Linked DNA regions of Homo sapiens: region 2 is linked to region 1. The links come from fine-mapping of genetic effects on gene expression. A gene starts in region 1. The other region holds a variant in brackets. All regions are shown on one strand. Distances are from middle to middle. Region 1 holds the start of INSM2 (INSM transcriptional repressor 2). Region 2 has its middle 29 kb from the start of INSM2.

What was found. PIP is the estimated chance that this variant, and not a neighbour inherited with it, causes the effect.
Region 2: its variant is fine-mapped to the expression of INSM2 in lung (TOPMed, PIP above 0.99).

The regions. Positions count from the first base shown.
Region 1 is chr14:35,524,254-35,540,027 of GRCh38, reverse strand. It overlaps INSM2 (INSM transcriptional repressor 2), which reads right to left and starts at 5,864. Exons shown (of 1, transcript NM_032594.4): 1 at 2,974-5,864. The coding sequence starts at 5,775. The coding sequence ends at 4,075. It overlaps RALGAPA1 (Ral GTPase activating protein catalytic subunit alpha 1), which reads left to right. Exons shown (of 42, transcript NM_001346249.2): 42 at 338-1,672. RefSeq lists enhancers at 3,775-4,597, 4,768-4,917, 4,598-5,421, 5,422-6,245, 6,246-7,070 and silencers at 5,878-6,247, 6,348-6,427.
Region 2 is chr14:35,497,105-35,512,878 of GRCh38, reverse strand. It overlaps the pseudogene KRT18P6. Among named protein-coding and RNA genes, the nearest start is that of INSM2, 29 kb to the left of the region's middle. The variant G/T (reference allele first, on the strand shown) is at 5,809.

The DNA of each region.
Region 1 (15,774 bases):
CTCACCTGCTTCTTGACCCCTTCCCTGCATGCTGATGGTGCTTTGGATCCCTGTTCTTTCTGGCTCAAAGATTTTGCTTCCCACTGCTTTTTCCAGGGTTCTAGCCCTGGGAATGATGATTGGCGCTTTCTTGCTAATATAATGACATGAGCCACCAGATTGCTGGGTTTTAAATACATTAGTAGGCTATTGTAACAAGCAAGTTTGGGGCTTGCTTTTTCCCTCGAAAGATCTTATTAAGGGATGGGATCCTTGCTGCAGATTAGTAGCAGAAAGATTATTTCTCAGGGGATGAGAGGCTGGATAACTGTAGTAATGCTCTTGCTGTTTCCTACAGGCTCCTACCCAGAGATTCTACCCAGTGAAACTCCCACAGCAACGCAGGTAGATGGGGCTGACCTGGCCTCTCCAATGTCTCCTCGAACTAGCAAAAGCCGCATGTCCATGAAGCTGCGTCGTTCCTCTGGCTCAGCCAATAAATCCTAAGGAGACAAGCAGCCCAGCAGTGATCAGCAGTAGCCACCTTAGCACGAACATAGGGTTAACCCTTTCAGGCCTTCATGTCTGCCATAACATGCATGTTTCTTCCTGTACATTTATTTGAGAAAACACTGGATTTAAATAATTTTAAATAATTTGTAGCTTAATATTAAAGATTTAAGTTATTTATTGTTTCATTTTTTTTCCCACAATCCAAGCTGCCATATTTTGAGGGCAGGGGGAGTTTTATTCTACACCCTTTACCTTCCTAGATAATTATGTCTAAGTAGTTTTATCTTTAATTTCATGGTTAACTGTGAGCCAAAATACAATTGGACAATTAGTCTCATTATTTATTGTGCCCCATTGCAACTTTATGGTTCAATAAATATATAATTTTTTACAAATGTAAAATTTTACATTTAAGCATTTGTAAAGTTACAGCAAAAGATGTACCTGTTAATACACAGAATGTGTACAGATTATTTGTTATGACAATAAAACACTCAAAATAAATGGTCTTTAGCATCTCAAATTCCAACTGAAATCATTTTAGTATTAACTCTTCTTCCCAAAGCAATGTCTCATTTCTTGGCTGTGCAGGTGATGCCATGTTATATCCAATAACTAGAAAAATCACTGTGCTGAACTTTTATGTTTAGCTTCCAAGTATTTTTCTAATGTTTTGCATTTCAAGTGGTATCACTGTTAAATGCCATTTGTTTTCAGATTGTGGCCTTTTATTATTGGCTGCTAGATCCTGGTGTTTCTATGTTCTTTTTTAAGCACCAAAAAGAAGATGGGGAAGAAAAGAAGGAAAATTTTCTGATATAAATATGTTGTTCAAATTATGAGTATTATTTAAAAAAGAAAAAGGAACATAACCCAGGAGTCTAAGTTAAATCTAATATTGTTAATACTGAACTTGCAGGTCCAGGTTGGTATACATTCCACCCTCTAGAAGTATTTTCTTACAGTAGATAAGCTGCTCACATTTTGTTTTGAATGGGCATCTCCTGAGGAAATGTAGCATGACATTGGTACTAACTGCATGTGTAAATACATCATACTGGCAAACCGTAAAATATAAATTATGTATCATCATTCATGTAGTATCTATAATTTGTAACAGTGGGGGGGAAAGATGACATGGTATTTAATAATACAATAAAAATATTCTTATCACTTCCTATCCATGAGTGTTGATTTGTCTTCTATGTTTCATATATTTTCAATAAGCAGGGCTATATGAGTAGTGAGGAGATTTAAAGCATGAACCTAGATTATCTTAGCTAATCATCAAAAATAAACTTGAATTCCCTTTTCAAGATACATTCCAACTTATTTCTCACAGATCCTACCACAGTCGTTAAAAACACAGGAAATTTTCTGTCTTCATAAAGGCTGGCCAGAAATTCACCCAATGCAGTTGGTTAGATTGTTAGTTTATCTCAGCTTCATGTTTTTGTTTTGTTTTGTTTTGCTTTTTGAGACGGAGTCTCCCTGTCACCCAGGCTGGCGCGATCTCGGCTCACTGCAACCTCCGCCTCCCAGGTTCAAGCAGTTCTCCTACCTCAGCCTCCTGAGTAGCTGGAACTATAGGCGTGTGCCACCACGCCCGGCTAATTTTTTTGTTTTGTTTTGTTTTTTGTTTTTTGTTTTTTAGTAGAAACGGGGTTTCACCGTGTTAGCCAGGATGGTCTCCATCTCCTGACCTCGTGATCCGCCCACCTCGGCCTCCCAAAGTGCTGGGATTACAGCTTCATGTTTTTTTGATTCTTAAATTTTACTTTGTTTTATAATATACTTTCAGCAATAAAACTTCGTACTAACAAGTTTCTAAGACAATCTTTCAGAAATTCTGTGCACCCAATTTCATTTTCTTATAAATGAAAACTAAAAGTCCTATGTAAGCTGATGTAGAAGATAAACAAATGGATAGAGTCCTTGGGAAGAAGATTGAACAATGTAGACAATTTCCTACAGCCAAGGTGAAGAATTACAAAAAGGAAAATCAGAGTAACTGCATACATGTTTCTAAAGTGCTATAAAAAATCTAATGGATTGATGATATATAACAATATGGAGTAAAAATACAAACCTGAAATAATGAAATTAATTAGCACCATTAAAATACTTCTTTTCATCTTCAGGTAACACTGTTCACTAGCTTGAAATATATATATATATATATTTAAAATATGTTTTCGGTTGACATTTCTTGGGGGGGATGTCTTTTTTAGATTCAAAGACTAGTGCATATTCCTTGCTTTTTGCAGCTCAGTCTTTGCAGCCATACTTCAAAGGAAAATTTTTCATTGCATTCCTGCACCATCACATTCATTTGCAAAATATTTCCGTCTTTGTATTCTGTCCAAATGGGTCACTAACATTCTAAAACAGGATACCGACATTGGGGAGATAAGAAATGTGGCTTTGAAAATAGGCTGTGTTCAACAGGATTCTTAAGACAAACACAGAACACAACAAAAGCACAGTCTATGTACATTTATTTGGTGGTAAGCATCTTACAAATACGGGCTTTCTGTCAGGCAGTGCTCAGCCAATGTCCCAAACTGGCTAGTAGGGAATTAGTACACAATGTACACTGAAATGGTTTTTTAAAAAAATCAAAAACAAGTTGCCGCTGAAAAGAAAATACTGAATATTGAGCAAATTGCCATTCAGTTCCTTAGTGGATTACAGGTGTTAACATCTTCCTTAAGCTGTACATATTTTCATAATGAATACACAGTATGACATTTACAGCAGAAGCATTAAACAATTTGGGTGAAACCCCATTAAAACAGTCAAACTTGAGGAAACGACTTCTGTATTTCCAAAAAGCCATTTAAAGAAAGGTTTGAAGTAGCTCTTCCTGAATACTGCCCACAAAATAGCTGAGGGTGAGAATTTTAGGGGGTGTCTCAACTCCAGTAAAGTAGCATCCTCCCCACCTCCAAACACCAACTTAAGAATGGACATGTACATATAATTGGGCAAAGGAAAGTTTACAGGGGAGATCCCCATGCACCCCAAAAGCAGCAAAAATCCTCTTACATTTTCTGCCAGGTCTTGAATCTCCTTAAGTTTGACACCAATCACATAACTTTTAATTCACAGAATATACAGTGCAAAATATCTGACCCTATTGAGACAGAAGCTGTATAGGCGCCTGTGATGACAAGACAAAAAAAACATTGGCTACCAAAGGGTAGCCAGAATCCTTTGTGGACATTGAGACATGCACGCATTCACCGCGACTTTCCATAGGAATTACAAATCATATAGGATTCGTTAGGGTCTCCAGAGTTTTAAGGGGAAAAATCCTATTTTAGTGGGGAAAGTGAGAAGGATTTAAAGCTGACAGTCTTTGATCTCAAGGTTTATACCATATACATACCTGCTCTAGAGAGGGATATTACATTTCACTGTCCGCTCCTCTGGTGGAACATTGACTACAGGGAGAATTTTAGGGGATTAAAACATAGGAAGGAATGAAAGTAAACTTGCAAGTTGAAGAAAGCCCCACAGAAATTCCCATGATCTGTTTCCTCTAAGGCCAACCTCGAAATCATCCTGGTCTCTCGTCCCTCAGCAGCCAGGCCGCAGTGGCATCTGCAGCAGCAGCACTTGCCGGCTTTCTGAGGGGTGGCACTTATTGATGTGCCGGGTCAGCCCTGGAGAGCTAAAAAAAGTGGACGGGCAGTGCTTGCACGAGAAAATTTGCTGGGCACTCCCGTCAGATGGCCCGCTAGGGCCCGACGTTTCGGGAGGAGCCCCCGCCAGAGCGGGCAGGAGCAGCTCCTCGCGGACAGCATGCCACAGCCGGTGCTTCTCCCTGATATCTGCTGTAGGGAAGTGCGCTCCGCACAATGGGCAAGCGAAGGCAAGTGGGGCACCGCGTTCGGAGCCAAAGCCCGGCGCTAGCGCACGGGCCGAGCCCGCCTCGTGAGTGCTCAGGTGCTTGCGCAGATAGGCTTGGCGACGAAACTTTTTGTGGCAATATGGGCACACGAAAATCTCGGATCCCCTGCCACCACTGGTACTGCCCGGCACAGGTACCCGGCGCCCCAACACCCCCTCCGTGTAGGGGCCCTGAGGCAGCGGTGGCTCTGGATGCGTCAGCACCTGGAGGCCCTGCCTCGGGGCGCTGTCCGGGTGCTGATCCGCCCCGGAGCTGTCCCTGGCCTGCGGGTGCTGATCCGCAGTCCGCTCTATTCGGCTGTTCTCCTTTCCCTCCGCCAGAAAAGATGCAATGGCCCCGGAGTCCCGGGAGGACGAAGACGACGAAGAAGGCGGCTTCCCGTCGGCGGAGGAGACTGTGGCGGCGTTTGCAGCCGCAGGACGCGGCTTATGCCAGCGGCGATGGGAGGCCAGGTTCGCAGGACAGCTGAACACCTTGTCGCACTCAGGGCAGCGGTACTCTACGCGCACGATGCGGGAGCAGCGGTGCTGGGCCAGCGCGAAGGGGTCTGCGTACTGCTCCTTGCACAGCTGGCAGATGAACTCCCCCAGTGGCGTGCGGCTGCCCCCCAAGCCCCGGGACGGCGCTCCGGGCTCCTCCTCCTTGATCTTCAGGCCCAGGACAGGGGATGTGGTCACCTCATCGGCAAAGCTCAACTTCCTCATGGCCTTTGGCTTCTTGATTCCCGCGGCCGCGGGTCCAGACGCGCAGTCCGTGGGTGCCTTGCCGCGGCGCTCGCCGCCGGCCGCCCGCTTCAGACTCTGAAGGGCGGCCGAGAGGGGCGCAGGGTCCGGCTGAAGCGCGGGCTCTGGGAACGGCGCCCGAAGCGGCAGCAGAAACTGCTCCCCCGGGGTCGGTGCGGCTGCTGGCGCCACGGAGCAGGAGAAAGCGGCCACGGCGGCGGCGCCCCCGGGGAAAGACTCGGCGGAGACGGGCGAGCTGAGGCAGCGCTCCAGGAACGCCCGACGCAGCTCTGCGCCTGCCGGCTTCGCTGGACTGGGGCTGGGGCTGGGGCTGGGCCCGGGACCTTCCCTGCCACCCGCCCGCCACTCCGCGCCTTCCCGCCCGCCCGTCCCCGGGCTCACCCCAGCCGCCCGACATGGCGACCCCGACTGTTCCCGGGCCGCCTCCGCCGTCAACCCCTTTCCTGGTTCCTCTCGGGTGGGGGGTGTCGCCCGCTCCGCGCCGGGCAAGGAGGCGCTGGGAGCCTCCTCCAAGAAGGGCGGCGCCCCCTGGGGCCCCAGCAGAGGGAAGACACGCTCCGCAAGGCGAACTCGGTACAAGCCGCCTGTCCGTTTAGTTCGCTTCACCAGGAATCCCCTTGGCATGGTGGAGTCGAGAGCGCTCTGGGACAAGAGGAAAGGGGGCGCCACGGGGACTGAGAGCCGGCCAGCAGATGAACTAGAAGAGCTTCGCCGCGGCTGTCATGCCGGGGCTATCTTTATAGCTGAGACGCGGGCCGGGGTCCCGCCGGGCCTCCCCGGGCTGGCCCGGCCAATCAGGAGTGGGAGCGGGCGCCGGGGGCGGGGCTTTCTCCCGTGCCGATTCACTGGAGTAGACGAATCTGGCGGCGGCGGCGGCGCACGCCCAGCCCCGCCTCACAGCGCCGCGAACCTGCCCCTGTGGCCGGCTGGGTCCGCCTCCCCCTGCAGCCTCCCGGGCGAAGACGCCAGAAGGTAAGGTCCAGAGTGTGAGGGAGCTCGACACTCCCCGCCTTGGCTGCCTCCGCGGAGCGTCCCACTGGGGAGCCGGGCGAAAAGGCCACCTCACGACGCCCTCCGCTCGGGCCGGGACCCGGCTGCCCCCAACGCGAGGGCGTCTGGCTGAAAAGCTCCCGCTCTGCGCCGGACGGCCGAGCGGAAGGGGCGGTGGGCAGAAGGTGCGGCGGAGACCACGGGGTGGGTGTCCGGGAGGGAACCGGTGCACGTCCTCTGCGGGTATTGAGCTGATGAGAAGTGCGACCGAGCGGCCGGACAGCTGACTGCACCGCCCTGTGGCTGCTGTCGGCGGCGGGAGCACGTCCGCCCGCCGGTATCGATCGGGCCCGCGCGCGGCGGCGACACTCGAGAGTTCATCTCCGCAGAAGGGCTCTCAGCGCGGGAGAGCGTGCCTGCCCGCCGCCAGCCTCCGAGTCGGGACGCCCGAGCGCGGCTGGGTCCTGGGCGTCTGCGCTCTTAAGTGCTTCTCGATAGGAGCAGGAGTAGGGAGAGGAAAGGAGGATCTCATTTTCCACTGTCCTCGCATAAAGTGGTTTCTCTGTTCACACTTTCCACTTGTACTACCCAGAGTATGACTTAATTCCTAACCGGCCTGTTTAGCATGGAGTAGATTGAGTGAGAAATGCCGGCGGAATCAGCATTACAGCTGCTTCCCCGTACACCACAAGTGATACTTTGCAAAAGGTGTGCTGTAGAGCAAACTCAACAGATTTTCATCTGGCACCCTGCAATGCTCCCACCACTATTTTGAGAACTAGAAGAGGTTTGAAAGTGTTTAGTAGTAATTGAACTAGGCAACAATTAGACCATCTATGACAGATATAAAGTGCCAAGATCCATAATATAGGTAAATAAAGTGTGAGAACAGGAAGGGGAAAGACTATGTGCACAAGTCTCCTTACTAAACCAAATTGGAGAAAAAGACTGACAGAGGTGTTTTAAAAGTACACGATAGCATAACAGATGTAGTCATCAATAAAACACATTGTCTTTCTTCAGTGAAGTATTTTTACAGGGAGAACATTATTTTGAGAAAGATTTGGAAGTAATTATATATTAATCATTGACTATGTTATAGGCATTCTGCTTAAGTAATCTCTAATCTTCATACACACGCACACAACATGTACACACACAAACCAAAAAGGAGATATTATTTCTCTCTTTTTTCAATGTGGTGATTGAGCCATTTAGTTAGATAATGGGTAAAAGCCAAGCAGAGCTCAGATTCAAACTTGTTCTGGCTAATTCCAAAGCCCAGACTCTTTCCACTACACCAATGGCTTCAAACTATTTTTTTCCTTAATCACATCCCACAATAATAAATGTGTTCTATAGTATATACACACATGTAACTGAAACAAAAGTCTCACAAAATAATACTGTGGGTCCTAATCTATTTGTAAATTATGAAATCATACATTGAAATGTTTGCAGTGCATTCTCATATTTTTCATTGTATTGTATTTTGTTTCTTAAAAATAGCAGTCATAGAAAATACATTGATTTCATAATTTACAAATGGATTAGGACCCACAGTTTGAAAAACACTCATTATATTGTCTCATTAAATAGCATGAAATGATACAAAATTAAATAAACCTGATACTGCATAATCACAATATCTGAACCACTGTTTAAAATATTTGAGTCCTTTAGCAGTGTTGGTAAACTTAGTTTCCCAAATTGGTCATTTCTGACATGTCAGCTTATATGTGACTTCTAACTCAAATTCTCAATTCTCCTTTCCTCCTCATGATCCATACATATTGTGTGGTGTGGAAAATCTGATGTAATAATTTTAATACTTTAAGATAACCCCTTTTCCAGAGAGAGAAAGGACTCTTCCCCAGGGGCATAGTACTTTGTAAGAATTGCTGTCAGATATTTTCTACCAGATCCGATAGTTCCAATAGCTCTCTCCTTCCCTTCCCAAGTGTAATTTAATAACATCCTTTCTGGAAATCATTGTAACAATTTACATCAGAAGCTTTAAAAAGTATGTATACATTTAATCTACCAATTCCTCCTTTAGTAAGTCATCCAAAAGAAGAGCGAAGATTTATGCACAAAGCTGTTTATCACAGTGTTATTTGTAATTATAAATAATCAGAAACCATCTTGAGTAAACTATAGTATAGCCGTGTTATAGATGATTACGTAGCTTTAAAAATGTAATGATAGAGACAAACATATATACCATAACTAAGCAAAAACAGCAGGCAGCAAAAGTTGCTTGTACAATAAAGAGCTCAGTTATGAAAAAAACGAAATGCATATAAGACAGTGGAAGGAAATATGCCAAAATGTTGTTGGGATTGCCTCTAGTAAGTAGGAATTCAAATAGTCTTTTTTTAACTTTTTTGTTAAAATATTTTGCAATAATCGTATATTACTCTGATAATCAGAAAAAAAAAAATTGCAAAACTGCCTTAAATCCTTTCTGGAGTTAAATGTGGTACCCTTCCCCTAGGATACTAGCACACTGCAACATCAAATGGAGAACTGTACAGATAAGTAGCATTCTCCAGGGCCATCTGTTTGAAATCTGGCCCTAGAAGAGAGTTGACAAGCCTCAATCATGCCACAGGCCTTCTAGTTGAAGAACACTTTTGGGAAAAGACTAAGGGTTAAAAGATAGAAAGGATTAAAATGTGGGGAAGAGAAAGAATTTAAATGCGTAATCCCCCCTTGGGTATAAACTTAGATGATCCTTCAAGATACAAACACTCTTTCTGTAGTTTCTCACTTAAAAATTACGATAAATAGGGCATTGCCAAAGCAAGATTATAAAATCTTTGTTTTATTTAATATCTACCTCCTTTCTCTTCACAAAAAGATTAAACATTCAGGACCTTCATCTGCTCTCAGTTATACTTTGGTAAAAACTCATACGCACTGGATTATCTCTCAAGCTATTTACATTTTCTGCTTTCTCTAATTGCGGGATACATTTAATTTAAATTCAGAAATTTTGAGACAATAGAAATCGGAACATTTTTTGAAGAGAGAGGAGACTTCTTCTTGCCCTGAAATCAGTGTGTATAAGACAGGCTCAGATGACTAACCTGCTTTTTATCACTTGAATATCTGGGAGATTACTCAGAAGGAACTTTATTTCTTCTGTTTCTCTGCCCCCTCACCTCCACTTAGACATGTCCCTGTAAAAGGTTAACACCAGCTGCAGCTACTACAGGCCCATTGTCCCTAGGAACTTGAAAGTCAAACAGTCTCTCACAAATCTAAAACCAAACTCTTGATTTCCTCTCCTAAACTTAATCCCCATCTCAGTTTTCCTCATCCCAGTAAATGGCACCTTCATTCAATTAGTTGCCTCAGCCAAAACCCAAAGACTTTGGGTTAAAGCTAAACACCCCATATTCAATCCATTAGCAGTTCTTATCAGCTCTATTTTCAAAGCATTTCCTGAATCTGAATCTTCTCAAATTCTCTACCACTGTTACTCTATTTGGTCTCTTGCTTCCATCCTTGCCTCCTTATAGTGTATACTTTATTCAGCAGCAAGTTGTATCCTATTAGAATATAAATCTGATTCTTTCACTCTTTTGTTCAAAATCTTCAAGTGGCTTCCCAACACATTTAGAATAAAATCCAAAGCTCTGCTTGGTCCCTGGATATTCTTAAACCACATCTCCCACTCCTCTTTTCCTCATTCAGTCTGCTCCATCTAAGTGGACACCTTATTTTCCTCAAACATGACAAGCACACTTCCACCTCAAGGCTGTTTATTCTGCCAGAATGTTTTTTCTTCAGATATGTTCACATCTTGTTTCTTAACTTCATTTGTGGATCTTTACTCAAATAATACCACCTGAGAAAGATCTTCCCTGACCACCCAAACTAAAATAACAGCCCTAACCCACCATCACCCTTCATCATTTTCTTCTTTTTCTCTACTGCCTGAAGGATATCTTCATCATTTTCTGTCCCTTTACTTTTTCTTCATAGCATTTATCACTATTTGCCACTGTATTATGTATTTGTTAATTGTCTGTTGTCTCTATAAAATCCAGGACGGTAGGTTCTTTGTTTTGTTCTCAGCTTCGTTTTCATCTGGTATCTAGATCAATGCCTGACATATATAAATGAATTGATGTCTAAAATCATAAGCTACCAGGTTCAAAAAAAAAGCATCACAGTTTCTTGTTACTGCAACCCACAGGCCTGAAGCCCACCCTGACTGAGTACAAAAGAAAGTATACAAAGTCATAAGGAGTTCTAGATCCTAGGCATTTGGGAATCTTAGTCCAGACAAATGAAAGGAATAGGAAAGTCTTTCTTGTATCATATGCCCTTGGAAGTCTTTTCCTCCCACCTCAGCCACTTGACCCATGGCTTAGATCACCACCATTTTCTTCCTCTGAAGCCATTACCTATAGGGAAAATAAACCCCAATTCATGACAGGAGCCTCTTATTTTAAGCTGTTTAGTACCCAGGATACTAGAAGAATGGGAGCAGAAAGAAGCGGTCAGCTACTTAGTAGGAAAGATAAGACTGGCAAGAGAAAACTACATGTTTAGGAAACAGGGAATTTTAGGCAAAAATAAGATGTACAGGATAGGATCCAGTTTATTGAGAAGTTCAATCTAGGACATTTAAAGGGAGGTTGTATAGGGTAGTTAGTTGAGGGCACAGGCTTTAAAGTTAGACAGTTTGAGTTTAGTAGAGTTCCAGCTCCACTACTAGCTGTTTAATCTTAAGCAATTTAGCCTTTTTAACCCTCAGTTTCCTCATCACAAATGGAAATAGAAATAATTATCTCACAGGGTACTTTGGGCATTACATGTTATTGTGTTTATAAAATACTTATCACAATGCATGGCACATAGTGAGTCTTAAATGAAAAGAGGGTGTTATTAAGTGTCTGAGGCGAAGGAAGACTATTGACACTAATGGCAACCCTAAATTCTTCAGAAATAACAATAATTTCTTGTGTGACTGGCTGATATTTTATACCCAATTATGATGCAAGACAGTAGTGATTATGCACACCATTTAATGTGCTCAAAATTAATTTTGTTTCATGTGGTTAAAACAAAATTCACAAAAGATGTAAAAGACAAAAGAAGGCAATGTAGTGTACTGGGTTATGCCCATGAGTTGGAGTCAGTCAGATCTGAGTTTGAATCTCGGCTCTGCCATTTTCTTATTGCGTGACTTAAACAGGCTGTTTAACCTCTCTGGCTTCAGTTTCTTGTCACATAGGCATGACAACACAGTACAGTATTTTCCATAAATGGGCCATCAGTCTGTTATTTTTGTCCTAAGAGGGTGTAAGGAGTGGAGAAGCTGAGACTGGAAAGATAAACTGGGGCAAGATTGCAAAGCCCATTATAACCACACTAAATTGAGTGCGGATATTTTTAAGTGAAAGCTACTGCTTTTTTTTAAAGCATTTAAATGATATAATCAAATATTTGCTTTGAAAAGAAAACTGTATGGCTATGTTGGAGCAATGCAGCTGTGAGGCTGAGGGAAAGATGTGGAGAAGGTAAGAAAGTGGGATGAGACTTGAGGCGTGAAGCTCAGCTGAACAAATATTAAAACAGTTGATAGAAGATGAAGTGGGCCTAATTATTCAAATATTGAATAGATTTAAATAATTGACTGATACACTCTATAATTATACTTATCTATGTTTTCCTCCCTGTATTGAGCAGTAAAATAGATAATACACATTCTAAAAACTTGAAAGCAGAGGGAATTTATAACGACTTTCATTTGGTCATGAAAGACTGTTGAGATTGAAATTCACTTCAGGACGTATAAGCAATGGGAAAATAGTGAACTTGAACTAGAAGGAAAGGATTTTCAATAGCATAAGATGTCAAATAGAAGAGGCTTTTTAATTTCTTTATGCTGGGTACATGATAGTTCTTTACTCTCAGCCATTCTCACATTCCAAATCACTAGCACTAACTGTGTCTTCTAAGACAGCTCTCTCATCAAACTATTTTAGCCACTTCTTTGGCTCAATATGTAATTCTACTATATTGCAGACACTTAAACGTTTGTCAATGTTGTACAAAGATAGCTTCCTAATATTATTAGAGATCCTCCGATAGGAATGCTTACCTCCCTACTTCCAGCCTTAAACGAATAAGTATTTTCTGGAGCTGGCTCATTGCTAATAAAGAGTAGATTCGAATCCTAGCACTGTCATTTACTAAAGAGGTGATCTTCGGCTGGGCGCGGTGGCTTATGCCTGTAATCCCAGTGCTTTGGGAGGCCGAGGTGGGCAGATCACCTGAGGTCAGGAGTTCGAGACCAGCCTGGCCAACATGGTGAAACCCCATCTCTACAAAAAATACAAAAATTACCCAGGCCTGGTGGCACTTGCCTGTAATCCCAGCTACCCAGGAGGCTGAGGCAGGAGAATCACTTGAACTCAGGAGGCGGAGGTTGCAGTGAGTCGAGATCACTCCACTGCACTCCAGCCTAGGCAACAGAGTGAGACTTCATCTCAAAAAAAAAAAAAAAAAAAGTGGGGGCTGATCTTAAAATTTTTGCTCAATCTCTCTGTGTCTTAGTTCTTTTCCCCACATTAGGCATAATAATACCGACATAATAGGATGAGAGTTAAATTAAAGGAGATAAACTAGTATCCTCTACAGAGCTGGCTCTTACCAAGTGCTCAACATTGGTGTGTTTGCATTGCTTGTAATAAGGGTAGAGCCTATCTAACCTGCTTTTATGTACACAAATAATGTGTTATATGTGTTCCAAATAAACACTTGGGAATAATGAAAATTGCTACCTGGCTGGACGGGGAAAAAGCCATGTCAACTTTTATCTATATCTATATATTTATATTTAAGATTCCATTCACATGCTTGAAAAGAATGTATATTTTGCAGTTGTACATACCAAGTTTTATATTATGCCCACCCCTCCACATATATATGGTAATTTATGTTATTTCTCTTTATAGTCTCTCAACTTTTGCTATATAAAATCTTGAGACTTTCTCATAGTCTTAAGATTCATATGAATGAAAAACAATATCCGTTTGGTTAATTGAAACCTCTCATAAGTATAAAGTATCCCTCTTTATCTGTACTAATGCTTTCTGCCTTAAAGTGTTTTGTCTGATGTTTTCCTCTAGACATATCAGCTTTCTTTTCGTTGGTGTTTACAAGGTATGTATTTTCCTTTTAATTTCAACCTTTCTTTATTATTATGTTTCAAATGTGTCTCCTATTAGCTGTTGGATTTTTTTTAACAGTCAATCTTTAGCTTTTAACTGAACCATTTAGTCCTTTTACATTTCTTGCTACTATATTTAGAATTAAATATGCCATCTTCCAAAGTGCTTTCATTTGTCTGATCTATTACATTTCTTCTTCTCTCCTTTTTGTCCTCTTTTAGATGGATATCTGATTTTTATGTATCAAATCCTCCTCTTTACCAGTTTAAAATTATATTCTTTGTATTATTTTATTGATTACTTTTAAAATTATATTACACATTTTTAATTTGTCAAAATTTAATAATATAAGGAAGTCAGAACACTTGAACTCCATATATTCTTTCCTGATTTGTATGCTATTGTTGTGTATTTTAATTTTGTATTTTTGAAAGTCCACAAGACTATTATTATTGTTTTATACACTTAAACACTGGATTTACTTAAACATTTTCCATTTTCTTTGCTCTTAATTCCTTGTATCTAAGACTTTTCATGTGAGATCATTCTCCTCCTACCTGAAATACATGCTTTAAAATTTCCTTCATTGTAGATTTGATAGTGGCAAAATATGTCTCCTCTAGTATATCTCAAATGTCATTATTTTATGGTAACTGTTTTGTTTCAGCACATTGAAAATAATATTCCACTGTCTCTTCTTTCCCATTTTTACTAGTGGAAAGTCAGCTGTTAGTATATTAGGACTCTTTTGAAAGTAATTTTCTTTTCTCTGGATTCTTTTTTTTTTGTTTTTTGTTTTCTTTTTTTTGAAATGGAGTTTTGCTCTTGTCGCCCAGGCTGGAGTGCAGGGGCATCTCAGCTCACTGCAACCTGCGCCTCCTGGGTTCAAGTGATTGTCATGCCTCAGCCTCCTGAGTAGCTGGGATTACAGGCACCCATGACCAGCTAATTTTTGTATTTTTAGTAGAGACAAGGTTTTGCTGTGTTGGCCCGGCTGGTCTTGAACTCCTAACCTCAGGTGATCTGCCTGCCTCAGCCTCCCAAAGTGCTAGGATTACAGGCGTGAGCCACCACGCCTGGCCTAGGTTATTTTAATATTTGTTTTTAGTCTTCAGTCTTAAGAAGTTTCACTTTAGTACACTTAGGTATGAATTTCTTTTCATTTATTATTCTTTCAGTTTGTAAGACTTGTTAAAATCAGTGCTTTGGGCCGGGCGTGGTGGCTCACGCCTGTAATCCCAGCAATTTGGGAGGCCAAGGCAGGCAGATCATGAGGTCATGAGATCGAGACCATCCTGGCTAACACGATGAAACCCCGTCTCTACTAAAAATACAAAAAATTAGCTGAGCGTGGTGGCAGGTGCCTCTAGTCCCAGCTACTCGGGAGGTTGAGGCAGGAGAATGGCGTGAACCTGGGAGGCGGAGCTTGCAGTGAGCCAAGATCGCGCCACTGCACTCCAGCCTGGGCAACAGAGCGAGACTCCATCTCAAAAAAAAAAAAAAAAAAATCAGTGCTTTGAAGTAATGTCAGTTTGAAAAATCCTCAGCAGTTAACTTTTCAGATAATTGCTTCTATTTTGTCTTATCTTTTTTTCTCCTTCTAGAACCCTGGCCAAACCTATGTTAGACATTGTCACTGTACCTTCTGTGTCTTTTTCCTTCTTATATATATTTTTTTCTTTTCTTTTCTTGCCTCTGGAATATTTCTTCTGATGTTCTTCAGGTTTACTAAATCTTGAAGTATGTCTAATGTAGTATACACTTAAAATCTGTTGGATTTTATTATTTATTTATTTATTTATTTGTTTGAGACGGAGTCTCGCTTTGTCGCCAGGCTGGAGTGCAGTGGTGCAATCTTGGCTCACCGCAATCTCCACCTCCTAGGTTCAAGCGATTCTCCTGCCTCAGCCTCCCGAGTAACTGGGATTACAGGTGTGCACCACCATACCCAGCTAATTTGTGTATTTTTAGTAGAGACGGGGTTTCACCATGTTGACCAGGATGATCTCGATCTCCTGACCTCGTGATCTGCCTGCCTTGGCCTCCCAAAGTGCTGGGATTACAGGCATGAGCCACGGCACCTGGCCCTGGATTTTAAATTTGTATTTTAAAAATTAGCTATAAAATTTATTTTTATTTATAAAATAAAAATATATTTAAAATCACAATAAAATTCTATATGATTCTTTTTTCAAAGTCAAACCTGCTGCGTTACTCTTTGTGGTTTTCTGTTCTCTGTAGACAGCATCAAGTTGGTCTTTTGTCTTTAAACATACTCTTCATAATTGTTTTGTAGTCTTATTTTATAGTCTGAGTCTGATAAATTCAATATTTGAGTTATTTGTGAGTCTGTTTTTATTGTCTGTTGTCTCTACTGATACTTGCCCGTTTAATCTAGTTTCCTTATGTATCTGTTATTTTTTTATTAGGTGCTGAACAT
Region 2 (15,774 bases), 27 kb after region 1:
GTCTGGCAGGAGTGGAGGGCATCCAGAATGAGAAGGAGACCATGCAAGGCCTGAACGACTCCCTGGCCTACTGCCTGGACAGAGTGAGGAGTCTGGAGACCAAGAAATGGAAGCTGGAGAGCAAAATGCAGGAGCACCTGCAGAAGAAGGGACCCCAGGTCAGAGATTGGGGGCATTACTTCAAGAACATCAAGGATCTGAGGGCTCAGATCTTTGCAAATACTGTGAGCCATGCCTGCATCGTTCTGCAGATTGACAGTGCCCATCTTGCTGCTGATGACTTTAGAGTCAACTATGAGACAGAATGGTCATGCGCCAGTCTGTGGAGAGCGACATCCATGGGCTCCACAAGATCACTGATGACACCAATGTCACTCAGCTGCAGCTGGAGACAGAGATGGAGGTTCTCAAGGAGAAGCTGCTCTTCATGAAGAACCACAAAGAGGAAGTAAAAGGCCTACAAGCCCAGATTGCCAGCTCTGGGTTGACTGGGGAGGTAGATGCGCCTAAATCTCAGGACCTCAGCAAGATCATGGCAGACACCTGGGCCCAATATGACAAGCTGGCTCAAAAGAACTGAGGGGAGCTAGACTACTGGTCCCAGCAGTTTGAAAAGAGCACCACAGTGGTCACCACGCAGTTCGCCGAGATTGGAGCTGCTGAGAATACACTCACGGAGCTGAGACATACAGTCCAGTCCTTGGAGATCGACCTGGACCCAATGAGAAATCTGAAGCTCAGCTTGCAGAACAGCCTGAGAGAGGTAGAGACACGTTACCCATGTAGATGGAGCAGCTCAATGGGATCTTGCTGGCACACACGGGCAGAGGGGCAGCACCAGGCCCAGAAGTATGAGGCCCTGCTGAACATCAAAGCTAAGCTGGAGGCTGAGATCACCACCTACCACCGCCTGCTGGAAGACAGGGAGGACTTCAATCTTGATGATGCCCTGGACAGCAGCAACTCCATGCAAACCATCCACAAGACCACCACCTGCAGGATAGTGGATGGCAAAGTAGTGTCTGAGACCAATGACACAGAAGTTCTGAGACACTGAGCCAGCAGAAGCAGGATACCCTTTGGGGAACAGGAAGCCAATAAAAAGTTCAGAGGTTAAAAAAAAGTCCTTCTGTTAAACCCAAAAAAAAGTGGTTTCCACCACCTTTAAAGTCAGTCCTGTCTAGTATTAAAAGTACTTACAGAAAGCTGGGTGTCCAGGCATGGTGGCTCACACCTGTAATCCCAACACTTCGGGAAGCTGAGGCAGGTGGATCACTTGAAGTCAGGAGTTCAAGACCTGCCTGGCCAACATGGTGAAACCCTGTCTCTACTAAAAATATAAAAATTAGCCCGGGTGTGATGGTGCACGCCTGTAGTCCCAGCTACTGGGGAGGCTGAGGCAGAAGGATCACTTGAACCTGGGAGGTGGAGGCTGCAGTGAGCAGAGGCTGTGCCACTGTGCTCTCCACTTGCTCCACCACCTTCTTTACCAACTACCGGTCCCTGGACAACAGAGTAAGACTGCATCTCAAAAAAAAGAAAAAAAGAAAGAAAGCTGGGTGTGATGGCTGGCACCTGTAATCCCAGCTACTCAGGAGGCTGAGGCAGGAGGATCACTTGAGGTTAGGAATTCAAGACCAGCCTAAGGAACATAATGAGACCAACCCCATCTCTGGGGAAAAAAAAAAAAGAGAACCGAAAGGAAATTTTATATATATATATATGGAAAATTATGTAAAATATACATTTCATAATTTTATTAATTATAAAATAATTATTTAATATATGAAATATAAAAGGATACATATATCCTTTATCTTAGGGGTCCCCAACCCCAGGGCCATGGACCCAGGCCACATAGCAGGAATTGAGTGGCAGGAAAGCGAGCATTACCACCTGAGCTCTGTCTCCTTTCAGATCAGCAGCAGCATTAAATTCACGTAGGCACACGAACCCTGTTGTGAACTGCACCTGTGAGAGATCTAGGTTGGTGCTCCTTATGAGAATCTAATGCCTGATGATCTGAGGTGGAACAGTTTCATCTCAAAACCATTCCCACCCCCACCCCTGTCCATGGAAAAATTGTCTTCTATGTAACCAGTCCCTTGTGCCAAAAAAGTTGGGGACCACTGCTGTATCTTTTTTATTTTATCCAAAAAGCTGCAAATAGCATTTGCTATAATATATTACAAGACTTATAATACTATTATCTAGAAAATGTACTTTTTAGCCTTTCTTTCTGTAGAATATTAGGGAAAAATCGATGAGATAATTAAAAAGGAAAAAGTGGAAATATTCATGAAATAGGCAGAAACAACTATTAAGAATAGCATTTTAATTCCTGGCATGAGGTTTTAAAGCCCAACATACAAATTTAATTCCTCTTTTAGTACAGTGTTTTTAGTATAATAACACCTTATGACTCAAGAACTGTGTACCTCAAAGTAAATGAAATTGAGGTTCAAAGATATTTCAAGCCATTCAAAATATGAAGGCACCCAGTGACTATAAATTACTAAACTTCTGGCAATCTGTCTCTTTTCCTGACATCCGATTAAAGTTTTATCATATATGGCTATTAATTATTGTTTTGAGCATGGGCTTTGAATTTCACTGAGTTCACCAGCTCTAGACACTTACAAATATGTTTTGCTATAAATTACTGGCACTGTTTCTGTTGATATTCAGCATAATCAAACATTTGTAAGCATGCTGTCTTTTCAATCTGTTCAGCTGATGCACTTTACCTGATCTTTCATTAAAGTAATCAAAACACTTGCTGTGTCGCATCTAATGAATGTTGCATGTATGATTAAGTGCTTTCATTCATATTGCAAGTTTGATTTAATGTAATCTGCCTTTCAGACAGCCATTAGCCTAGTTCCTACATGAATTCGATTAATTGGCTGAATTCTTCCAGATGTCCATTAAGCATTACAGGAATTTCTATGTGGAAACAGCAGGGACTGTCTAGCACAGAAGCAAACAATGAAATGTTATATTGCTGCCATGACTTACAAAAAGCTGGATTCATTTTCATTAATAAAACATCTGTACTCCTGCACAGCTATGCATTGACATGCATTTATTTTATATGTTTATTTCTCTTATGACCGTAAAAAGATAGTTAAACAGAAGCACATTTACTGAAATATAGACCCTGAGTTTAACAGATGCTGATTGACAAAACAGCTCAATTTTTAAGTTTATGGTAGGTCCTAAACGGAAGAAAGTACACTAACAGACACCTGTTTGAAACAGAATTAAAGAACGTCTGGGATTATACCAATAGAAATAAATGTATTAAAATGACATTAAAGGCTGATTTTGAAAATTATTTGATTGTCCTATCCACTCCCAAATCCGTTGGATCTCTTTAACAGAACAGGTCAAATATATCTCTTGCTGGGATGTTCTTTAAGTAGTTGTATCTTCCTCTCTCTCTCTTTTTTTTTTTTTCTTTTGAGACACAGTCTCACTCTGTCACCCAGGCTGGAGTGTGGTGGTGCAATCACGGTTCACTGCAGCCTCAACCTCTCAGGGTTCAGGTGATCCTCCCATCTCAGCCCCCCAGTAGCTGGGACTGCAGGCGTGCATCACCACGTCTGGCTAATATTTGTGGAGTTTTTTGTTTTTGTTTTGGTTTTGGTAGAGATGGGGTTTCACCTTGTTGACTGGGCTGGTCTTCAACTCTTGAGCTCAACGGATCCGCCCACCTAGGCTTCCCAAAGTGCTGGGATCACAGACATGAGCCACCGCTCCTGGTCTTTCTACTTGGTATGTTTTGTTTTGTTTTTTGTTTTGTGTTATTCGAAATGAACAGGGAGAGATTTAGCCTTGAGCAGATCCTAGCTCAGTGCATTTTACCACTTAATACATGCTATTTACAAATCATTTGGGAGATTTACCACAACTAATAATTGAAACAAAAGGTAAGTTTGAAAACAAGCCAGTTTTACACAGGGACAGTTATATATTCTCTAACGTCAAATGTTCATCTTAAAATTAAGAGTACCACACAAATAACTTTTTGTGTTATTTACAAGGATCTACAAATTGGTGCTATCAATTAAAGCTGAAAATCTTATGTTTCATTTCATAATTATATCTCCATTTCATAATTATAAATCATCCCTGCTATAAAGACATATAGTATTGAATTTTTTTTTTTTTTTGAGACAAGGTCTCACTCTGTCACCCATGCTAGGGTACAGTGGCATGATCATAGCTCACTATAGCCTCTAACTCCTGGGCTCAAGTGATCTTCCTGCATCAGCCTTCCAAGTAGCTAGGACTATAAGCGTGCACCACCATGCCAGGCTAATTTTTTCTATGTTTTATAGAGATGGGATCTCCCTCTGTTACCCAGGCTGGCCTGGAACTCCTGACCTGAAGTGATCCTTCCACCTCAGCCTCCCAAAGTGCTGGGATTACAGGAATGTGCCACCATGCCTGGCCTGTAGTGTTGAAATTTAAAAGTAAAATGCCTTTTATCCTTTCTTTACACAATTAGAGACAACATATATACTTGGAGAGAAAGAGAGAAAGTATTTGGGAGGCCAAGGCGGGTCGATCACCTGAGGTCAGGTGTTCGAGACCAGCCTGGCCAACATGGCAAAACCCTATCTCTACTAAAAATACAAAAATTAGCCAGGCATGGTAGTGGGCGCCTGTAATCCCAGCCACTCGGGAAGCTGAAGCATGAGAATCGCCTGAACCCAGGAGGCGGAGGTTGCAGTGAACTGAGATCCTGCTACTACACTCCAGCCTGGGCAACAGAGCAAGACTCCGTCTCAAAAAAAGAAAGAAAGAAAAGAAAGAGAAACATTCCCATTATAAAACATGCATGCAAATCATTAATCATAATATAAATTTATAATTGAACTTTGAAATTTCAAGTTTTACCTGAAATAACTTCTCTATTAGTAGTTTCTACTTCATTGGAGAATTTTTTTAAGTGATTATTACCTACTAGTTTATCCTGAGTAGGTAAAGCTACAGTAACTGAAAGAAGGCCTGTTTTAGGATCAGATCATCAGTCATATATGCCATGTTAATAAGATGATGCCAATTGGGTTTCTATGATGGGGCTTAAATAGGCAATATCAGCCTTGACCAGATTTGTTAGTCAATTTTTTCAGAAAAGAAAATCCTATAAAGGAAAATACTAGTCTTCTTGTTGGTCTTGGTGCTATAATCAGGCTTAAAAATACTAAGCTTTAAAAATATTTGAATGTACCTTCTTTTTCACAGTCATTCAGCAAAAATTCATCGGACACCTACTATGGAAATATAAAGACATATAAGTCACAATCCCTGCACTCATAAGAGAAAGAAAATAGCTAAGTGTATTACATGAAAAGTACCATAATAAAAGTCATTTAAAGTCCTATGACAGCATTAAGGTGGGAGTACTCCCCTCAGTTCCTCAAGCTTCACAGAGGAGTGAACATTTGTGCTATATCTTGAAAGATGAGTAGGAATAAGGTAGTCAAACTAAGAGAAAGGATTGGAGAGTAATAGGGTACCTCAAGCACCAGTAGGGCATGCTGTCATGGGGGTGCATTACTCTCCACTCCAGTTGTTTCCTTTCTTGTCAAGGGACATCCATTAGAGCAATGGTCCTGGACTCTTTCCATCCCTTCACTCATCATTTCTTCCCAGTTGTAGAGGAATTGCTTATTTTAACTAATGAGTTAGGGAGCAGGAACTTGGTATGCTTGACTCAGCCTCAGCCACTTCCTTCCTCCCTCCTCTGTCTGATAGACCTGGTCTGCTCTTGGCCTTACATAAGCTTAGAAATAATTG[G/T]TTGCTTATGAGAGATGAGGCCAGTAGTTATCCTGTTCTTCCTGAGACAGGATGGGTAAGTATGTCTAATTCTGGGCTTCAGAATTAAGAAGGCTTTTAGTTTCCATATATAAGCCACATTCTCCAATCTAGGCATTGTTGGTAATAATAGTGATATTTTGTTCTCAAACTGCCTCCTTCAGTTGGTTTAGAACTCAGGCAAGGAACTGGGATGCTATTTGTCGTCCACCCCCTCTTCTCCCCCAAAAAGAAAAACCCTCAAGTAATGTAGAGGCCTAGAGCCATGAAAATCGTGTATTCAGAGTGTTGAAGCATAAAGTGATTGAGAGGAAAGGTGAGAAATGAGACTGGAAAAGTGAGGCCGGATTGTGAAAGACACCAAGCCTTGACAGGAATTCGCTGAAACACTTTGTTACAATGTATAAAGATGGAGATGATATGTCGGAAACTGGCCAAATGCCCAAACAGAGCTTCATTAGATGCGATCCCTTGCTTCTCAGACAGTGACTTTCCAGCTTTATTAAAGTACATTAGAATCATTTGGAAGCCTTGGTAAAATGCAGATCTTGAGCCTCATCTTTAAAGATTCTGATTTAGTATAAGTACAATATGAGTCTCAGGAATCTGTATGTTTAACAAGCTCCCTAGATGATTCTCATGCCATAAATTTTAACTTTTCTTGGCGAAATACTGTTCGAGGGTCTGAGCTAAAACTTTATCATTCTAGAAATTCAGTTTTGTCAGAATAGTCAAAAATGTTCAGATTCATAATCAAGCCCCTGAGATACTTAAATATAAACTAGAGTGCTGACTGATTTAAGTTTAATGCTGACTGATTTAAGAATTAATTAATTAAGAATTTAAGTTTAATGCTGACCGATTTAAGAATTAATTAATTAAGAATTTAATGCTGACTGATTTAAGAACTATAGCTTTAAAAGGACTGGGGTCCTTGGGGCTGTAAAGAACACATCCTCTCTCTGTGGGAAAATCCATATGGGAAGCCACACTGTAACCAAAGATTGCTTGATCACTTTGGATTCATGGCAGTGAGAGTTAGTTGGATCACCATTACTAATGGCATCAAGCTTGTCTGATGTATCCATCTTCACTGTTGAGAATAGACTTGCAAAGGGGATTGGAAGCTGCTAAGGGGAGTGGAAGTTGCTTCCTCTGCCCAGGGCCATGCTGAAGACACACTGAGAAATTCCTGCTCTTGGCCTCTCCTTTTTCTAGTCTCCTTTTTTAACACATTTTTCAGGTAAGATTAAATATAATTGACAAGGTTAAAGATTTAGATATACTAATACAGACACATTTTCTTGAAAATATACTTGTTACCTTGAAAAGAGTTTAGATGCTCCTAGAACTCTACCATTCACAGAGTATTGGTTAGGACTAAATATTTCTATAAATGAATATAAGCTTCATGATGTCAGGGACCTTGACTTCTGGTTCACCACTTTATCCCAAGTGCTTAAAATAGTACCTGACATAAAAGAGTAGTCAATAAAATATATATTTTTGAATAGATGATTAGCCTCATCTATTACATTTTTATTCTTTTCATTTTAATTTTTATTCTCAGAGGCAAACCAATTCCAAAATCTGGGGCTACCTTGCCCCTGCCGCTTATGAATTAACCACACACCTCGACGAAATGCCTAAAGCAAAATCAGCTGCTTTAAAAAAAAAAAATTTGGTTTTTTGTTTCTCACTACTACACTAATGAGGATTAAATTTTTTGCCTTTGTTACACTTTTGTGATTGGGATGTAACATGTTGTCAGAATCTGTTTTCATTTTTACCATCAATCTCTGAGTTTATGTTTTGTGAGTTCCCAACTGGTTAAAAAGAATAGGAAGTCTCTGCTTGCTCAAGAATAAAAAAGAAGAGAAATGGAGATGACTAAATACCATTTCTTCTAGTATTTGTGATAGCCAGCTAAATCTAACGACTTTTTCCTTGACGTGTAAGTGAATATCACCAACCTTCTTCAGAAAAAAAATGTGAGGGGAAGTTCTTTAGCTTCTGAGCTTAAGAAATGTTGATAAATATTTGAAAATTCAACTAATTAAAAATGAAATGCAGCCAGCTAAGCTCCAGTCATTTTTAATTTACAATATTGCTTTGCTTTCGAGGCAATGTAGACAAGTCACAACTTCTTTTGATGCCTGAGGGATTGAAAAAATTAAATCAGCAGGATTGGCTATTGATGTTTTCTAGCAAATGTTTTGAAATCTCTGCCTTTCATCCATCTTGTAGGAAAATAGGATTGCTTTCTGAGCCTTCAAAGATATTAATTCCTTTAATAAATCCTTACTTATGTGTTGAAAACTTCCCACAGTTAGGTTTCTGTAGCAATCTCTACATCGGGGTAAATGTTGCCCGCAGGCAGACTCCCAATTTTTTTTCCAAGTATCATCACTCTTGGTCTGAAACTGGGGCTAACCAACATTACAACAGATTAAACATACCTTCTGTTCAGCCTCTTTTCATAAGATTTCTTTATTATATTCTTTGCAAGGCAAATTTCGTGACAGGCTGTTTGCCTTCCTGGTGATCAGCACTTAATGAGATAAAGCACAAACATAAGCAGTGACTGTCCCAGTTTTGTACTTTGATCCCTGCCTCTCTAACCAATGTGAAAAAAGATAGAGAGCTACCTGAGATTCTTAAAATGCAAAGAATATTTGTCATATAGTAAACCAATCAGAGCTTCATTCAATAACAAGAATAAAAATTGAATATAAGAAGTTAAAAACAAAGCATAGATGTGTGCATGCATGAAAGGTGGGCTTGAGGGGGAAAGGAAGTTGACCATATTGTGAAGATTTTGTGTAGAGCATCTATCTATTTCTCTAATACTTTTCACAACAACAATTGTAGAAAGATAGTAGAAATGAGAAGATAGTACCAAAACTATCAGATGACCCTCTTGAGGACAGCATTATTTCAGAGAGTTTCTTTTATTAAAAGGAGGAAGCATTTATGATGTTGGTTTAAATGTTGTTCTGAGACATTCTCCTTGAAATTCCTGCTTAAGGGATTTAATATTAATGTGCCTCTGCTTAAAAAAAAGTATAAAGTTTTCTCTTTTTTGTCCAAGCCTAAAAAGAAGAATGATAAATAGACTGGCTTTTGTGGGAAAGAAAGAAGCTCAATAATGACAAGTAAATGAGCTAACACCTTTTCCCTGGAGACTAAAGAGGGAGGGACTAGATAGCTTCTGACTATAGAAAGGGAGACGACAAAGGAAAAAAAAATTAGTGCAGTGAGCAGTATTAGGAACGTTTTGAGGGACAGTTTGAGAGCCTGCAACACAGCAGGGTATAGCGTTTCTTTTTCATGAAGAGTCTTTATCTAGCATCCTTGAATTAATAATTTACTTTAGGCTGGTATTTCCTGAAAGTTAAAAATCCTAAGGTTATGAGCCCTAAATAAATAAACAGTATTGTCTTAATACTACTGACCATGAAACTATATATTTAAAGATAAATTTTAGTATTCCATTTTTTCCTATTAAGGTGTAATAATGAAAAATTAAACATTACATTAAATATTCTATTTTTAGAAAAAACATGTTCCTAATTATGTATATAAATGGATAGAACTAGAGATACATATATGTATATGTAATAAGCACGTAATTAGAAAAACTAATCAGGTGTGTACCTTCCTGTTGTCAAAGTCTATCATTTCTTTAAATAGCATGGTCTGCCTTTATTGAGGAAAAATACATAAAAATAAAAATATTAGAATTCCTATAAGTAAATTTTAATTTCATTATTCAAGATGGATCTATGCTTACACTTTACTATAATGCCATCCATAATGGTTTACTCAATGTCAAAAATATATATTATCCTTGATAATTGAACTCTAGAGATCTAGTTGCTAGTTTTTTCCTTTTGCTACTCACCCTCAGTTTCTGATTCCCCAAGTCTGAGAAGAGTTATGAGCATCTCTATTTTTTTATTTTTATTTTTGTGGGTATATAGTAGGTATAAATATTTAGGGGGCTCATGAGATATTTTGATACAGACATACACATCAGGATAAATGGGGTATCCATCCCCTGAACATTTATGCTTTCTTTGTTTTACAAACAATCCAATTATACTATTTTAGTTATTTTTAAATGTACAATAAATTATTGTTGACTGTAGTCACCCTGTTGTATTATCAAATACTAGCTCTTATGGGAGTATTTGGTATTTGGTATTGGAGTATGTACATATGAATATATGTACAAAAATATATTTTTGTACGCATTAACCATCTCAACTTGCTTCCCACTCCTTTCTACCCGTCCCAGCCTCTGGTAACCATCATTCTACTCACTACCTCCCACAAATGAGTGAGAACATGCGAAGTTTGTCTTTCTGTGCTTGGTTTATTTCACTTAGCATAACGTCTATCAGTTCCATGCATGTTGTTGCAAATGAAAGGATCTCATTCTTTTTATGGCTGAATAGTACTCCCTTGTGTATATGAACCATATTTCTTTATCCATTCATCTGCTAAAGGACGCTTAAGTTGCTTCCAAATGTTGGCTATTGTGAATAGTGTTGCAATAAACATGGGAGTGTAGGTGTCTCTTCAGTATACTGATTTCCTTTCTTTGGGGTATATATCTAGCAATGGGATTGCTGGATCATATGGTAGTTCTGTTTTTAGTTTTTTGAGGAACCTCCAAACTGTTCTCCATGTGGTTATACTAACTTATATTCCCAACAACAGTGTACGAGGGTTCCCTTTTCTCCACATTCTCACCAGCATTTGTTATTGCCTGTCTTTTGGATAAAAGCCATTTTAACTGGAGTGAGATGATATCTCACTGTAGTTTTGATTTGCATTTCTCTGATGATCAGTGATGTTGTGCACCTTTTCATATACCTGTTTGCCATTTGTGTGTCTTCTTTTGAGAAATGTCTATTCTGATCTTTTGGCTATTTTTAAATTGGATTATTAGGGCTTTTTTTTTTTTTTTTTTTTTTTGCCCTATAAAGTTGTTTGAGCTCCTTTATATTCTGGTTATTTATCCCTTGTCAGAGGGAGAGTTTGCAAATATTTTCTCCCATTCTGTAGGTTTTCTCTTCACTTTGTTGATTGTTTCCTTTGCTGTGCAGAAGAAGCTTTTTAACTTGATGTGATCCCATTTGTCCATTTTTGCTTTGGTTGCCTGTCCTTGGGGTATTACTCAAGAATCTTTGCCCAGTCCAACGTCCTGGAGAGTTTCCCCAATGTTTTATTTCAGTAGTTTCATAGTTTGAGGTCTTAGATTTAAGTCTTTAATCCATTTTGATTTGATTTTTGTATATAACAAGAAATAGAGGTCTAGTTTCATTTTTCTCCATGTGGATATCCAGTTTTCCCAGCACCATTTATTGAGGAGACTGTCCTTTCTTCAATATATGTTCTTGGCACCTTTGTCGAAAATGAGTTTACTGTAGGTGTGTGGATTTGTTTCTGGGTTTCCTATTTGTTCCGGTGATCTGTGCTTTTATGCCAGTACCATGCCGTATACTCTAATGGTTTAAAAACTATACTACTATATTACTATAGCTCTGTAGTATAGTTTAAAGTCAGGTAATGTGATTTCTCCAGTTTTGTTCTACTTCCTTGGGATAGCTTTGGCTATTCTGGATCTTTTGTGGTTCCATATAAATTTTAGGATTGTTTTTTCTATCTCTGTGAAGAACGTCACTAGTATTTTGACAGGGATTGCATTGAATCTGTAGATTGCTTTGGGTAGTATGGACATTTTAACAATATTGATTCTTGCAATTCAGGAACATGGAATATCTTTCCATCTTTTATATCCTCTTTAATTTCTTGCATCAATGTTTTAGTTTTCATTGTAGGATCTTTCACATCTTTGGTTAATTTCTAGATATTTTATTTGTAGCTATTGTACATGGGATTGTTTTGTTGATTTCTATTTCAGATTTTTCACTGTTGGCATATAAAAATATTACTCATTTTTGTATGTTGATTTTGTATCCTGCAGCTTTACTGAATTTGTTTATCAGTTCTAATACTTTTTTGGTGGTGTCTTTAAGTCTTTCCAGATGTAAGATTATATTATCTGCAAACAAGGATAATTTGACTTCTTCCTTTCCAATTTGGATGCCCTTTACTTATTTTTTTATTTTATTTTATTTTATTTTATTTTATTTATTTTATTTTATTTTATTTGAGGCAGGGTCTCACTCTGCCACCCAGGCTGGAGTGCTTTGGCATGTTCATAATTTACTGCAGCCTTGACCTCCCAGGTTCAATTCATCCTCCCACCTCAGCCTCCCAAGTAGGTGGGACTACAGGTATGTGCCATCACACCTGGCTAATATTTTGTAGAAATGGGGATCTCACTATGTTGTCTAGGCTGGTCTCAAACTCCTGGGTACAAGTGATCCACCCACCTTGGCCTCCCAAAGTGCTGGTATTACAGGTGTGAGCCAGTAATGGCTGTGCCTGGCCCTTTATTTCTTTTCTTGTCTGATTGCTGTAACTAGGACTTCTAGTACTATGTTGATGAAAGTAGGCATCCTTGTGTTCTAGATCTTAGAGGAAAGTATTTCAGTTTCTCCCCATTCAATATGATGGCAACTGTGGGTCTGTTCACATACGACTTTTATTATGTTGAGGTATATTCTTTTTATATCCAGCTTTTTGAGGGTTTTTATCATGAAGGGATACTGAATTTTATCAAATGCTTTTTCAGCATCAACTGAAATGATCATATGGTTTTTGTCCTTCACTCTGTTGATATGATGGATCCCACTGATTGATTTGTGTTATGTTGAACCATCCTTGCATCCCTGGAATAAATCCCCCATGGTTATGATGAATGATCTTTTTAATGTATTGTTGAATTCAGTTTGCTAGTATTTTGTTAAGGATTTTTGCACCAGTGTTCATCAGGGATATTGGCCTGTAGTTTTCCTTTTTGCTGTGCCCTTGTCCGGTTTGGGTATCAAGGTAATACTTACCTTGTAGAATTAATTTGGAAGTATTTCCTCCTCCTCTATTTTCAGAATAGTTTGAGTAGGATTGGTATTAGTTCTTCTCTAAATGTTTGGTAAAATTCAGCAGTGAAGCCATCGGGTCCTGGGGTTTTCTTTGCAGGGAGACTTTTTCTTTTTCCTTTTTTTTTTTTTTTTTAGGAGAGGAAGGGGAGAAAAGAAGAGGGGAGGAACTGAGAGACTTTTTTTTTTTTTTTTTTTTGAGACAGAGTCTCACTCTGTTGTCCAGGATGAAGTATAGTGGCACTATCTTGGCTCACTGTAACATCCACCTCCTGGGTTCAAGCAATTCTCCTGCCTCAGCCTCCTGAGTAGCTGGGATTATAGGTGCCCACCACCACGCCCAGCTAATTTTTGTATTTTTAGTAGAGATGGGTTTTTGTCATGTTGGCCAGGCTGGTCTCAAATTCCTGACCTCAGGTGATCCGCCCACATTGGCCTCCCAAAGTGCTAGGAGTACAGGCATGAGCCACCATGCCCAGCCTGGGAGACTTCGTATTATGGTTTCAAGCTCGTTATTTCTCATTGGCCTGTTAAGGATTTAGATTTCTTCATGGTTCAATCTTGGTAGGTTTTATGTGTCTAGAAATTTATCCATTTCTTCTACATTTTCCTGTTTGATTGCTCATAGTAGCCACTAATGATCCTTTGAATTTCTGCAGCATCAGCTGTAATGTCTCCTTTTTCATCTCTGGTATTAATTTGAGTCTACTCCTTTTTTCTTAGTCTAGCTAAAGGTTTGTCAATTTTGTTTATCTTTTCAAAAAATCAGCTTTTTACTTTGTTGACTTTTCTATTATTTTCTCCATTTCAATTTCATTTATTGGCATTCTGGTCTTTACTTCTGCTAATTTTGGGTATGGTTTGCTTCTGCTTTTCTAGTTATTTAAGATGCATTGTTAGGTTGTTTATTTGAAGTGTTTCTACTTTTTAAAATTTAGGCACTTATAGCTACAAATTTCCCTCTTAGTGCCTTTGCTGTGTCCCACGGGTCTTGTTTTTTTGTTGTTTTTGTTGTTGTTTGTTTGTTTTTTGAGATGGAGTCTCACTCACTCTGTTGCTGGGGCTGGAGTGCAGTGGTGCAATCTCAGTTCACTTCAACCTCCTCCTTCCAGGTTCAAGCAGTTCTCCTGCCTCAGCTTCCCAAGTAGCTAGGATTATAGGCATGTGCCACCATGTCCAGCTATTTTTAATAGAGACAGGGTTTCACCATGTTGGCCAAGCTGGTCTTGAACTCCTGGCCTCAAGTGATCTGCCCACCTTAGCCTCCCAAAGTGGTCTGCCCACCTTAGCCTCCCAAAGTGGTGGGATTACAGGTGTGAGCCACTGTGCCTGGCCAGTATTCCATAGGTTTTGGCATGTTGTGTTTCTATTACCATTTGTTTCAATACATTTTTAAATTTTCTTCTTCATTTCTCATTGACCCACTGGTCATTTAGGAGCATGTTGTTTAATTTCATGTGTTTGTATCATTTCCAAAATTCCTCTTGTTATTGATTTCTAGTTTTATTCCATTTTGGTCAGAGAAGATACTTGATGTAATTTTAATTTTTTTGAATTTTTTTAAGACTTGTTTTGTGGCCTAACATATAGTCTGTGAGAATGATCCATCTGCTAAAGAGAAGAAAGTATTCTGTACCCATTGGAAGAAATGTTCTGTAAATATCTATTAGGTCCATTTGGTTTATAGTGCAGATTAAGACTAATGTTTCCTTATTGATTTTTTTGTCTGGGTGATCTTTCCAATGCTGAAAGTTGGGGGGTCTCCAGGTATTATTGTGTTGGGTCTCTCTCTCTAGGTTGAATAATATTTGCTTTATATGTCTGGGTGCTCCAGTGTTAAATGCATATGTATTTACAATTATATCTTCTTGCTGAATTGACCCCTTTATCATTATATAATGACATTTTTTATTATAGTTTTTTGTCTTGAAATATATTTTGTCTGATATAAGTATAGCTACTCCTGCTGTTTTGTTTTTTTTGTTTGTTTGTTTTTGTTTTCCATTCTGTAACCTTCCTGTATTTTCATGGAATATATTTTTTCATTCCTTTATTTTCAATCTCTGTATGTCTTTACAGGTGAAGTGTGTTTCATGTGGGCAGCAGATCGTTGGGTCTTGTTTTTTATCCATTTAGCAACTCTATCTTTTGACTGGAGTACATTTACATTCAATGTTATTATGATATGTAAGGACTTACTCCTTCCACCTTGTTTTTTGTCTTGTGGTTGTCTTATGGTCTTCTCTTCCTTCTGTCTTTCTTTCTTTCCTGTATTCCTTTCAGTTACAGTGATTTTCTCTGGTGGTATGTTTTAATTACTTGCTTTTATTTTTTGTGTCTCTGTTGTATGTTTTTTTATTTCAGGTTACCATGAGGCTTGCAAATACTATCTTATAACTCATTATTTAAAACTGATGACAACTTAACACTGATTACATAAACAAACTGACAAGCAAAGAGAAAACTAATAAAAACTCTACACTTGACATTTTTTTCCCTGCTCTTTAACTTTTTGTTGTTTCTATTTATATCTTATTATACTGTCTATATCTTGAAAAATTGTTGTAATTATTATTTTTGATAAGCTCATCTTTTAGTCTTTCTACTCAAGATATGAGTAGTTTACATACCACAATTACGGTGTTATAATCTTCTGTGTTTTTCTGTCTACTTACTATCACCAGTGAGTTTTGTACCGTCAGATGATTTCTTATTACTCATTAATATCCTTTTCTTTAAGATTGAAGAATCCCTAGGCAAGGCACAGTGGCTGACGCCTGTAATCCTAGCACTTTTGGAGGCCAAGGCAGGTGGATCACCTGAGATCAAGAGTTCGAGACCAGCCTGGTCAACATGGTGAAACGTCGTCTCTACTAAAATTACAAAAATAAGCCGAGGCCGGGCACCGTGGCTCGCGCCTGTAATCCCAGCAGTT